3 linked regions of the Homo sapiens genome follow. The protein of the gene in region 1 interacts with the protein of each later gene in a biochemical or structural test. Each region holds a gene or a part of one and is shown on either strand. Other genes may lie near its edges. The genes, in order: EFNB2, DLG1 and LIMK2.

Region 1 (3,654 bases):
GATGCAAGAGTTTCAGTTTGATCACCAAGAGTCTCCTACCTAAAGTTTTAGAGTCCACCTTGGGGCAAATAATAAACCAGTGGCAGATAGCAGTTCCCTAATAAACTGAAGTCTATGGTAACCAAGCCACTGGAAAATTCAACCCAATTAATTATGAGTATAATTTTAAACCAAAGAAATTAAGAAAAAAGACTTCATTGCTTGAATGACGCGAACAGCTGTCTGAGTCACCTAGACTTTAACACCACCTGGGGCCCTGGGAATGACGCTGACGAGAGATCTGCACATAGTAGGCGTGGGCTCCAAATGTGCTCATCAGCTGACTTCACATCCTCACAAGTCAGCCTCAGATATGACCCAAGGGATACGTACCATCTCTTCTTGAAACAGCGTGTCAAATTATATATATGTATGCAAAAAAGAGTAATGTACTAAGCAAACCAAGTTTCGTCTTTTTCTTCTGAATCTGGTTTTAATGTGACCTGTCATCCCCATCTTTCGAATTTATGAGCTCCATCTTCTCTAGACTGTTAACTTCTTGAGGAAAACATGCTATTTTACCACCTTTCACTGCTGAATCCCTAGCCCTTAAGCACAGTCTCTGGCACAGAATAAATACGAAATGAATGAGTGAATGAATGGATGGATGGGTGAAGAGAAAAGGCAATGCACAAGATTTACCTATCAAAATCCACCAATGGTCCTTAAAAATGGTTTTGTCAGTAGAGATGCTGAATATATTCATATAATACATTTATTTCAATACTATTAAGAATTCTAGTGTTTTTTTTTCTCTTTGGGTATGTATACTTAATGAATACTGGTAGCACAGGGTCCCAAATTCAATGAAGTTTTCTTTGAAAAAAAAAAAGGGGGGGGGGACAATTTTTCCACATAGATTTTCATCAAATTATTTGTCACAATAATTTTAAGGAAACAAAAAATTGATACAAACCTATATAGCTTATCTTAATTTCTATAAAATAAATGAATAAAATTATACTTACATATAATGTAATAATCTTTGTTCTTCTGAAATTCTAGACCCCAGAGGTTAGGGCTGAATTCTTGAAACTTGATGGTGAATTTGATATCTTGGTCTGGTTTGGCACAGTTGAGGAGAGGGGTATTTTCCTTCTTAATAGTGCATCTGTCTGCTTGGTCTTTATCAACCATATAAACTTTATAATATTCATACTGGCCAACAGTTTTAGAGTCCACTTTGGGGCAAATAATATCCAATTTGTCTCCTATCTGTGGGTATAGTACCAGTCCTTGTCCAGGTAGAAATCTAAAAGCATAAGAAAAAAAAGCCATTGAGTTGATAAAAATTAACAGTATTAATGACAGTTACAAGATAGCCAGGCAATGCCCATAATCCCAAACTACACATTTTCAGATTCACACTTTAATTTATCAAAAGTCTCTTACTTCAGATCAATATGGGATGAATGTATTTTGGAATTAAGCTTTAAAAGAAAAAGGAAAGACAGAAAGAAACCACTTTCCTTACTCTAAGCTGTAGGATCAGGCTACCTGCTGACATTTCTTTACCACCCCCTCGCTTGTAATATTTCAGTACTCCTTTGTGTAACTTTACCATAACTCTTCCTCCGTGGTGAGTCAGATCTCCCACATGTTTGTTATTTTTTAACCATTGGCAGCTTTAGTTTATTGGGCATGCCACAGAGAAAGCTCGTCAATTGGAGGGAACAGTGGATCCACTAATACTTTGTTGTCCTGTTAGTTTCCCTGTGCTGTTGATGTTAATTAACAGACAAGTTTCATCAAGAATGTTTCAAATTACTTATCATAATTAGTCAGTCACTGATCAAACAATGGGTTTTTTATTACACTGAACAAAAGCAATGTCTTACAAATGCGTAAAAGATAACCAGAAATAATTAGTTGTGGTATTGATTCAGCTGCAAAATGAAGTGTCCTCTACTTGCAAGGACAACTACTGTCCCTGCCCTATAAATCTTTTTTTTTCTTCCCTTGAGATGTATTTGCTCCAATTAATTCTCAGAAGCAAATCTTTAGAACTAAGACTACTGATACAATATCCCCTTAATGCTTATAGCTGAAAGCCTCCCTCCTCCCTTTCCTCTTTCTTGGTAGCCATGTTCCTGAATGATCTTTCTTAATGGGGAGTTTCTCTGAAAAACTGAAACAAGAACTTCCTAATGAACATCCTTCTACAAGTGCTAACACTAACAACACACTTAGAAATCTCAGCTCGTTCGTAAGCAGCCAAGCCTGCAGGCTCATTAAAATATTAAAGCCTAAGAACAAAGAATCGCCTCTGAATCCTTCCAATCCAACCCTTTCTTTAACCAGAGACGCCCACCAGCCATGATGACTACAGGGTCATAATTCACTAAGAGATAAAGCAAGGATGATAGGGCACCCCCAATTTCAAACCCATACCAAGGGAATAGTTTATGATTTATGCTAATGAATGGTATTAATTTTCTGAAAAGTGCATGAGTGTGGTTATGAAGCAGCACAAAACATAACAGAAATCATACTATGGATTCATATTAAAAACCCACACTCTTTATTGGGAAGAAAAATGTATGTGGCTGTTACCTCTTTCTTGGGAATGTGTTACTGTACAACCCCCAAAAGAGAAGGATGGTCCCTTTTTTTTTAACTGAGCTCCTTTAGCAAGGATATATGACATTCATTCATTCAAAAAAACTTTCTGTGAAACAGAACTCAAAACGAATTTTTATAACAATGATATATTTAAAACAACCATGTGTGTACTGTTGAAGAATTCTCTAGAACTTTTGACAAATGCAAATCACAGTGGGAGCCTCTCTGTGGTATCCCCTCAACCTTGTGAATGGCAATGTGTTCTCTGTAGACAATTTCATCTTCTTTATGGACAAAACACAATTCAGTTTCTCAAGTAACAGACTGAATCAGAATGTTTGGGATGAGGCTAATTTCTTTATCTCCCCCAGCCCCTCCAACACACACACAGTAATTCTGATGTGCTGCTGAGGTTAAAAACCTCAGGCAAGATGCCGGGCAGTAAGTACAAACTAAATTCCATAAACATTAAATTGATCATCTTCCTGACATTTCCTTTTTCTCCTGTCTTATTCCTTGACCTTTTTAGGACATCTTTAAGGTTTACAAACACCAGGAGTCAATTCCTGCCTAGGGTTTCTCATACACTCCAAACCTTTTCTATCCTTAATCTGCTCCTTTTGTAGCCTGCACAGACAGCACTATATAAGGGTTAGCTACTATTAGGGGAAGTATTCCTAAATTACAAGCCCTGGGGGCATCCCAGGCTTCAGAGATTAGGATCCTTAACCAAACCAGATGTACCCATTTCCTCAACCATTCATTCAGCTCTTTTAAGAAAATGCATTACACCCCCTCCCAAGCTGTACATCTCTGCAAATCTTAAAACTCTCCCACATTACACCCTATGTCTCAAGTTTGGCTCACTAAGCTCCTTCTTCATTCAAAATGCTCCCAAGATCCTGTTTCCTTCATGAGGATTTTTTTTTTCCTGCTTAACTAAAGATTCACAGGAGGTTTCCTCCCAGGCCATGCAAGTCACTCCTCTTGACTCTCATCACTCACCGTCTCAGCGACAGGTCTTGCTGGTGCTGATGCGGTGAGGTCGAGAAC
Region 2 (3,654 bases), on another chromosome or scaffold:
GTTAGGAATGTGAGTGTGCAAATATTTCTTCAAGACCCTGCTTTCAGTTCTTTTGGATATTTACCCAGAAATAGGATTGTGGGATCATACGGCAGTTACATTTTTAATTTTTTGAGGGCCCACCATAATGTTTTCCATAGTGATTGCAGCATTTTACAGTCTCACCAGCAGCACACAGGATTTCCAGTTTCTCCACATCCTTGCCGATACTTAATTTTTTTCCTTTCTTTTTTTGATAATAGCCATCCTAATAAGTGTGAGTATATGACTCCTCTTCAAGTGTATGTAAAACATAATAACCAACATTTATTGAGCACTTTCTATGTGCTAATACAAATATATCATTTAGTCATTGTAATCCTGTGAGGTGTACATTCACCTGTATGAGGTGTTTGTACTGTTTTATAGACTGGAAAACTGAAGCACTGAGAAATGACCAATCTTGCCCTTGGACCCTCAGATGCTAAATTGCGGAGCCAGAAATTGAACTCAACTAATCTGAATCCATAGATACTTCTCACCGTCAACCATTGGGATATTCTTTATCGTTGTTTTTCAGAACTGAGTATTTTAATCTGATAAAGAATACTAAATGACAAGCATGCTTAAGACAGATAGCAATCTTTAGGGTTAGTAATCTTTAAATGATTGTCACTTTGAAGGAAAATATTTATAATGGTGCATTATGTTTATGATGATGGAAATCACACATTTTGAAAACAGTGTTTAGTAATCAGGGTTTGAGATCTTCCAGCTATAGTGGTAAAATGTCAAAATTTCTTAAATTTCTTTTGCATTATATTAGTCCCACTGATGTTACATTTTAGTCTCTTGCTAACTGTGTGTGTGTGTGTGTGTGTGTGTGTGTGTGTGTGTGTGTAACTTTGTAGGCTAGATTTGAGTAAGGAAAACAGGATATGGATCACATCGTTGGCTGAAACTTCCTGAAATGGAGAATTTTAGTAACTTCTCACTTGATGGTTTTGATTCAATTAGATTGAGTTCTTTGCTCATAGTTTGCTTACTACTGCTCTGAAGCAGTGTTTTGATTATGTTGAATCTGGCTGAATTCTCTTTAGAACCTTGGAATCAGAGTTGTAAAGGCATCTAAATATTTCTTCTAAGCCATTTCCTCTCTGCAGGGTCATATTTTTCCTCAGTGCAGAATCCAGACTTGGACCAGATATTACCGTTAGTTGTCACGTCTCTTTACTTAGGGCACATTTCCACAGCTTTTCTTTGTCTTGTGTGAGACTGACTTTTTTTTTTTTTTTTTTTTTTTTACTATTTGGAGACAGGGTCTTGCTCTGCCACCCAGGCTGGAGTGCAGTGGTGGCTTACTGCAACCTCTGCTTCCCAGGCTCAAGCAATCCTCCTGCCTCAGGCTCCTGAGTAGCTGGGACTACAGGTGTGAGCCCCCACGCCTGGCTAACTTTTTCTAGAGACAGGTGTTGCCCAGGCTGGTCTCGAACTCCTGAGCAAAGTTCTGGGATTACAGGTGTGAGCCACTGCGCCCAGCTGAGATTGATGATTTTGAAAAACGCAGTTCCTTCCACTCTTACTTTTTTTTAATATAATTTTCTCATTTTGGGTTTGTCTGATGTTTCCTTGTGATTAGATTCAGGTTTTGTATTCCTGGCTTAGGATTCTGTACATCCAGAGGTACACAGAGTCATCTGCTCTTTGTTGATGATACTGATTTTGATTACCTAGTTGGGTGTTGTCTGAATTCTGTATCCTATAGTCATTGTTTTTTACCCCTTGTGGCTTATAGGCAATATGTGGGGGAGACACTTTAACACCATGTACATATCCTACTCCTTAGCAAAATTTCCACCCATATTTAGCATCCATTGATGATTCTTGAACCGGTTTATAATATGGTTGTTGAAAAGTAAGATTTCTAACAGTAACACTCCTAGGTTTACCAGTTAACACTTTGCATTTTATTCTAAACAAGAGCCTTCCTTCTTTTTTTCCCGTGTCTTTCATGAACTTGCAGATACCTGTTTTTTTTTCAATGACTTATCATTTATTACCATCCTTAATGACATTTGTGCTCTGAGTGATCCAGTGGGGGCCCTTTCAAGCTTGTGTCCTTATGAGATGCCCTCATCATTTTTTGGAGCACTTTCTTAATTTTTGGCATAACAAGATGTTCCAGGTTTATCTTGTACCTCTCCTGCCCCAGCCCTGGAATCAGCCATTTCTCTGAGAAGCTCTGGTTCCTTTTAGTACACACCTTGTTTTATGGAATATGCTTGTGAGTCATGTATGATTCTTAGTCTAATAGTATCTAAAGTATTCAAGTGATTTATTTTTGCCTACTAGCTTGACATCTTTCCTTTCTTTAGTGTGTGAAACAATAGTACAAACTTTTAAATTTTATAGGATATTCTTTCTTCTAGGGGTCAAAAATGACTTTTTAAATGAACATTGGTTTAGAAGAAAGAGTATTTGTGCTTGAGTAGATTTGACTATTGTGGTATTATCTTAGTATGTCATCTGCCCTTCACTGATGATGTTAATTTTGATTACTCAATTGGGTATTGTCTGAATAATCATACTTGCTTTTAGTAAATGAACTGATAGAATTTTTTTCCTCTGAAATGGTAGGGTTATATTTCAGTGTTCTTCAGCTTTCTAGTTGCCTTTCCTGTAACCCTCCAAAATAAATTTATTATAAAAATGATGCATGTTCTATATAAAACATTTGAGATCAGATTATTATATGTAAAATACCATAAGAAAATATTCACACCAGAGGTTACCTCCTACTTCATCCATGGGATGAATATCCTGGAATGTTATTTGTGTGTGTGTGTGTGTGTGTGTGTGTATGCGCGTGTATACACGCCACCCCCCACCTTCATTTTGCAAAACAAACTTCTAAGTAAAACAGTTATTTCCCTTGTGAGAATTGATACTTAAAATCAGCATGTAAGGTGAAAAACCTCATCTAGTTAAAATTATCCCTGAAAAGCCTTCAGAAATTTAACACTAGCTCTTGTTAATTACAGCACAATTGTTTTTTTTCCTCTAGTGGAAAGGAATGATTTCTTCACTTGAGCCCTAGACGAAGCAACTGGCTTGTTTGACTTCTTGTACTAAAAACACGTAATTATAGAATCACACTCAGCACAGTGAGATATAGCAAGAAGCTCACATTTTGAGAGGCACATGAAAACTCAGACTACCTAAAGGAAGAATCTTCTTCCTTCTCATTTTTTTATTTGTGACAGTCACTTATTGGGTAGACAGAGTTGCCCTTTTTTGCAGGGGAGATATACTGCAGTTGTATTTGTATAAGTGTGAATAGTATGATTTCTCTGTACTATACATATTGTTTTTATCTTCTAAAGTTTATCGACAAATGTCTTTCCATGTCAGTAGATTTCTACCATTTTATGTATGTATGTATGTATGTATGTATGTATTTTTTTTTTTTTTTTTTTTTTTTTGAGACAGTTTCACTCTTGTTGCCCAGGCTGGAGTGCAATGGCTTGATCTCAGCTCACCACAACCTCCGCCTCCTAGGTTCAAGCGATTCTCCTGCCTCAGCCTCCTGAATAGCTGGGATTACAGGCATGTGCCACCACGCCTGGCTAATTTTGTATTTTTAATACAGACAGGGTTTCTTCATGTTGGTCAGGT
Region 3 (3,654 bases), on another chromosome or scaffold:
AAAGATACTAGAGTTTGGGAAGTCAGGAGGAGCTAAGGTCTGTTCTACAACCTTATTAGATGAAGAGGAGAGGGAATTGTGTTCAGGGCAGAGGGAGAAGCATTTCTCCAAAAGTAGGAGTCTTAATCATGTCTGATGTAGGTTGAGTGTGGCCAGAAAAGGGGCTGTTAAGTATAGAGGGCCTGGATTATGAAAATCCAGCAGATCCATTGAGAGTTTAAGCAGCAAGGTGTTGTGACCAAGTTAACATTTTAGAAGGATCACTGGTATGGAGGTTGGATTGGAGAGGGGAAAGCCTAAAGGTATAGAGACTAGTTAGGAAGCTATTGTAGGCTGGGCATGGTGGTTCATGCCTGTAATCTCAGCACTTTGGGAGGCTGAGGTGGGAGGATTGCTTGAGGCCAGGAGTTGAAGACCAACCTGGCCAACATAGCAAGACCCCGTCTCTGTTTTTCTTAATTAAAAGAAAAGTCCAGACGTAGACATAGTGGCTCACGCCTGTAATGCCAGCACTTTGGGAGGCCAAGGTGGGCAGATTGCTTGAGGTCAAGAGTTTGGGATTAGGCCAGGCGCAGTGGCTCACGCCTGTAATCCCAGCACTTTGGGAGGCCGAGGTGGGCGGATCACAAGGTCAGGAGATCAAGACCATCCTGGCTAACACAATGAAACCCCGTCTCTACTAAAAGTACAAAAATTAGCCGGGCATGGTGGCGGACGCCTGTAGTCCCAGCTACTCGGGAGGCTGAGGCAGGAGAATGGCATGAACCTAGGAGGCGGAGCTTGCTGTGAGCAGAGATCACGCCACTGCACTCCAGCCTGAGCGACAGAGCGAGACTCCATCTCAAAAAAAAAAAAGAGTTTGGGATTAGCCTGGCCAACATGGCAAAACCCCATCTCTACAAAAAGTACAAAAAAATTAGCTGGGTATGGTGGTGCGCGCCTGTAATCCCAGTTACTCAGGAGGCTGAGGCATGAGAATTGCTTGAGCCTGGGAGGTGGAGGTTGCAGTGAGCCCAGATCATGCCACTGCACTCCAGCCTGGATGACAGAGTAAGATGCCATCTCAAATAAAAATTAAAAACAAAGTTTAAAAAAAAAATAGAAGCTATTACCGTGATCCAGGTAAGAGATGTGAATAACTACAATGATGGAAAGAAGGCAGAGTTCTTAGAGATGGGAGTAGGAGAGATGAGGGAACTCCAGATTGGGAAGATGATGTTCAAGTTTCTGGCTTAGGCCACAGGGTGAGTGGCAATTCCCTTCACTGAGATGGGGCATCCTGGAAAAGGTGTTGCCTTTCTGTGTGGGTATCCTGGGCCCCTTAGGGGCCACTGGTGGCCTGGGACCTGGTAAACCTTCCCTGCACAAGCAGAATTGGTCAAGCAGGTTTTTAGGACATCTTTACCCTGCCTCAACTCTTGTCTGGCCCAGGGTCAACCGGATGCACATCAGTCCCAACAATCGAAACGCCATCCACCCTGGGGACCGCATCCTGGAGATCAATGGGACCCCCGTCCGCACACTTCGAGTGGAGGAGGTAGAGTGTGTGTCTAATCTGTCTTGTGAGGGTGGGACATGGAACAGATCCTCTGAGAAATCAGGCTGTAGCCTTTACCTTTTCCTACCCCCAGCCCATCTCTTTGTCTTAGCATTGAGCCTGTGACCACTGGTGACCTATTTCAGCGTAACAGGTTCCCAGGGTAGCAGGGATGGTTGATGGACGGGAGAGCTGACAGGATGCCAGGCAGAGGGCACTGTGAGGCCACTGGCAGCTAAAGGCCACCATTAGACAAGTTGAGCACTGGCCACACTGTGCCTGAGTCATCTGGGTTGGCCATGGGTGGCCTGGGATGGGGCAGCCTGTGGGAGCTTTATACTGCTCTTGGCCACAGGTGGAGGATGCAATTAGCCAGACGAGCCAGACACTTCAGCTGTTGATTGAACATGACCCCGTCTCCCAACGCCTGGACCAGCTGCGGCTGGAGGCCCGGCTCGCTCCTCACATGCAGAATGCCGGACACCCCCACGCCCTCAGCACCCTGGACACCAAGGAGAATCTGGAGGGGACACTGAGGAGACGTTCCCTAAGGTGCCACCTCCCACCCTGGCTCTGTTCTGTCCTATGTCTGTCTCTCGGATGAAGCTGAGCTGGCTTTCAGAAGCCTGCAGAGTTAGGAAAGGAACCAGCTGGCCAGGGACAGACTATGAGGATTGTGCTGACCCAGCTGCCCCTGTGGGGATCACAGTTTACAGCCAGAGCCTGTGCGGACCCAGCTGTCTGCCAGGTTTCCTTAGAAACCTGAGAGTCAGTCTCTGTCCACTGAACTCCTAAGCTGGACAGGAGGCAGTGATGCTAAACCCTGAAGGGCAACATGGCCTATGGAGAAAGCATGGAGCTCAGAGCCTGGAGTAGGGGCACAGATAGGATTGAATAAATTGTGTAGAAAGACTTTGAAAACAATAAAGCAAAAGATGAATGAACGTTTTTTTTAGACTTGAGGGACCAACAACCCCCAAACCCCAGATTCTGCCAGGTCCATGGGGAAGGAGAAGTTGCCTTGAGTGGAAGCCCCAAGTAGGGAGACTTACAGAAAAGAAGTCAAGAGCACTGGCTCCCAGGCAGAAATACTGATACCCTACTGGGGCTTCAGGCTGAGCTCCTCCCTTCACAAATCACTTCATCTCTCTGAGCCTGTTTCTGCATCTGTGACATAAGATGGTAAGATAAAGGTGGCTGTCTCACCAATTATGTAAGGATTAAATGTGGAAAAGGACATAAAGTTGTATAGTGCTGCCATAGGGACAGTGTTCAGTAAACGTGACACATTCTTAGTATCACTAAGAATCAGGTTCTTGGCCAGGCACCGTGGCTCATGCCTGTAATCCCAACACTCTGGGAGGCCTAGGTCGGAGGATGGCTTGAACACAGGAGTTTGAGACCAGCCTGAGCAACATAGTGAGACACTGTCTCTACAAAAAAAAAATAATAATAATAATTGTTTTTAATTAGATGGGCAGGGCACTGTGGCTCACACCTGTAATCCCAGCACTTTGGGAGGCCAAGGCCGGAGGATTGCTTGAGGCCAGGAGTTCAGGAGCAGCCTGGGCCACATTCCTGTCTCTACAAAGAATAAAAAACTTAACTGGGCATGGTGGCACATGCCTGTAATCCCAGCTACTCAAGAGGCTGAGGAGGAGGATTGCCTGAGCCCAGGAGTTCAAGACTGCAGTGAGCCTTGATCACACCACTGTACTACAGCTTGGGCAACAGAGTGAGACCTTGTCTCCAAAAAAAAAAGTTTGTTTTTTTTTATCCACTCTCCTCACCAAACAAACTGAGTAAGTTAGAGCCCTCTCAGCTGGCATGTGTTGGAAACAGTGCCCTCTCATTAAAGTGCTGCCCTCACTCCCATTGCCTCTTGGCCTTGGTCAGTATGATGAAATTAGTGGGAGGCAGGGCAACAGAGGGCAGGGAAGAGCTAGAAATCCATGGCCTGGAAAAGGGAAGATTTGGGAGTGGCCAGGTATCTGTAGAGCCACCATGCAGAGGAGGGGGGCAGCTAGCCTTGTGTGCTCTGGTGGGCATGGTCAGCAGGAGGCAGAGCAAAAGGACAAGGGTAAGTAAACCTGTAGGTCGGGACAAGCCAAGAGCCA

Evidence for each region.
Region 2: the proteins of EFNB2 (region 1) and DLG1 interact in a test that uses a peptide from one of them, tested with the Homo sapiens proteins (one large-scale study listed by IntAct).
Region 3: the proteins of EFNB2 (region 1) and LIMK2 interact in a test that uses a peptide from one of them, tested with the Homo sapiens proteins (one large-scale study listed by IntAct).

Annotation. Positions count from the first base shown.
Region 1 is NC_000013.11:106,511,522-106,515,175, forward strand, and holds part of EFNB2 (ephrin-B2 isoform 1 precursor), read right to left. Parts: intron 1,292-3,654; coding exon 1,008-1,291; intron 1-1,007. UniProt on the Homo sapiens protein: Cell surface transmembrane ligand for Eph receptors, a family of receptor tyrosine kinases which are crucial for migration, repulsion and adhesion during neuronal, vascular and epithelial development.
Region 2 is NC_000003.12:197,288,527-197,292,180, reverse strand, and holds part of DLG1 (disks large homolog 1), read left to right. Parts: intron 1-3,654. UniProt on the Homo sapiens protein: Essential multidomain scaffolding protein required for normal development. Recruits channels, receptors and signaling molecules to discrete plasma membrane domains in polarized cells.
Region 3 is NC_000022.11:31,260,703-31,264,356, forward strand, and holds part of LIMK2 (LIM domain kinase 2), read left to right. Parts: intron 1-1,431; coding exon 1,432-1,537; intron 1,538-1,892; coding exon 1,893-2,089; intron 2,090-3,654. UniProt on the Homo sapiens protein: Serine/threonine-protein kinase that plays an essential role in the regulation of actin filament dynamics. Acts downstream of several Rho family GTPase signal transduction pathways.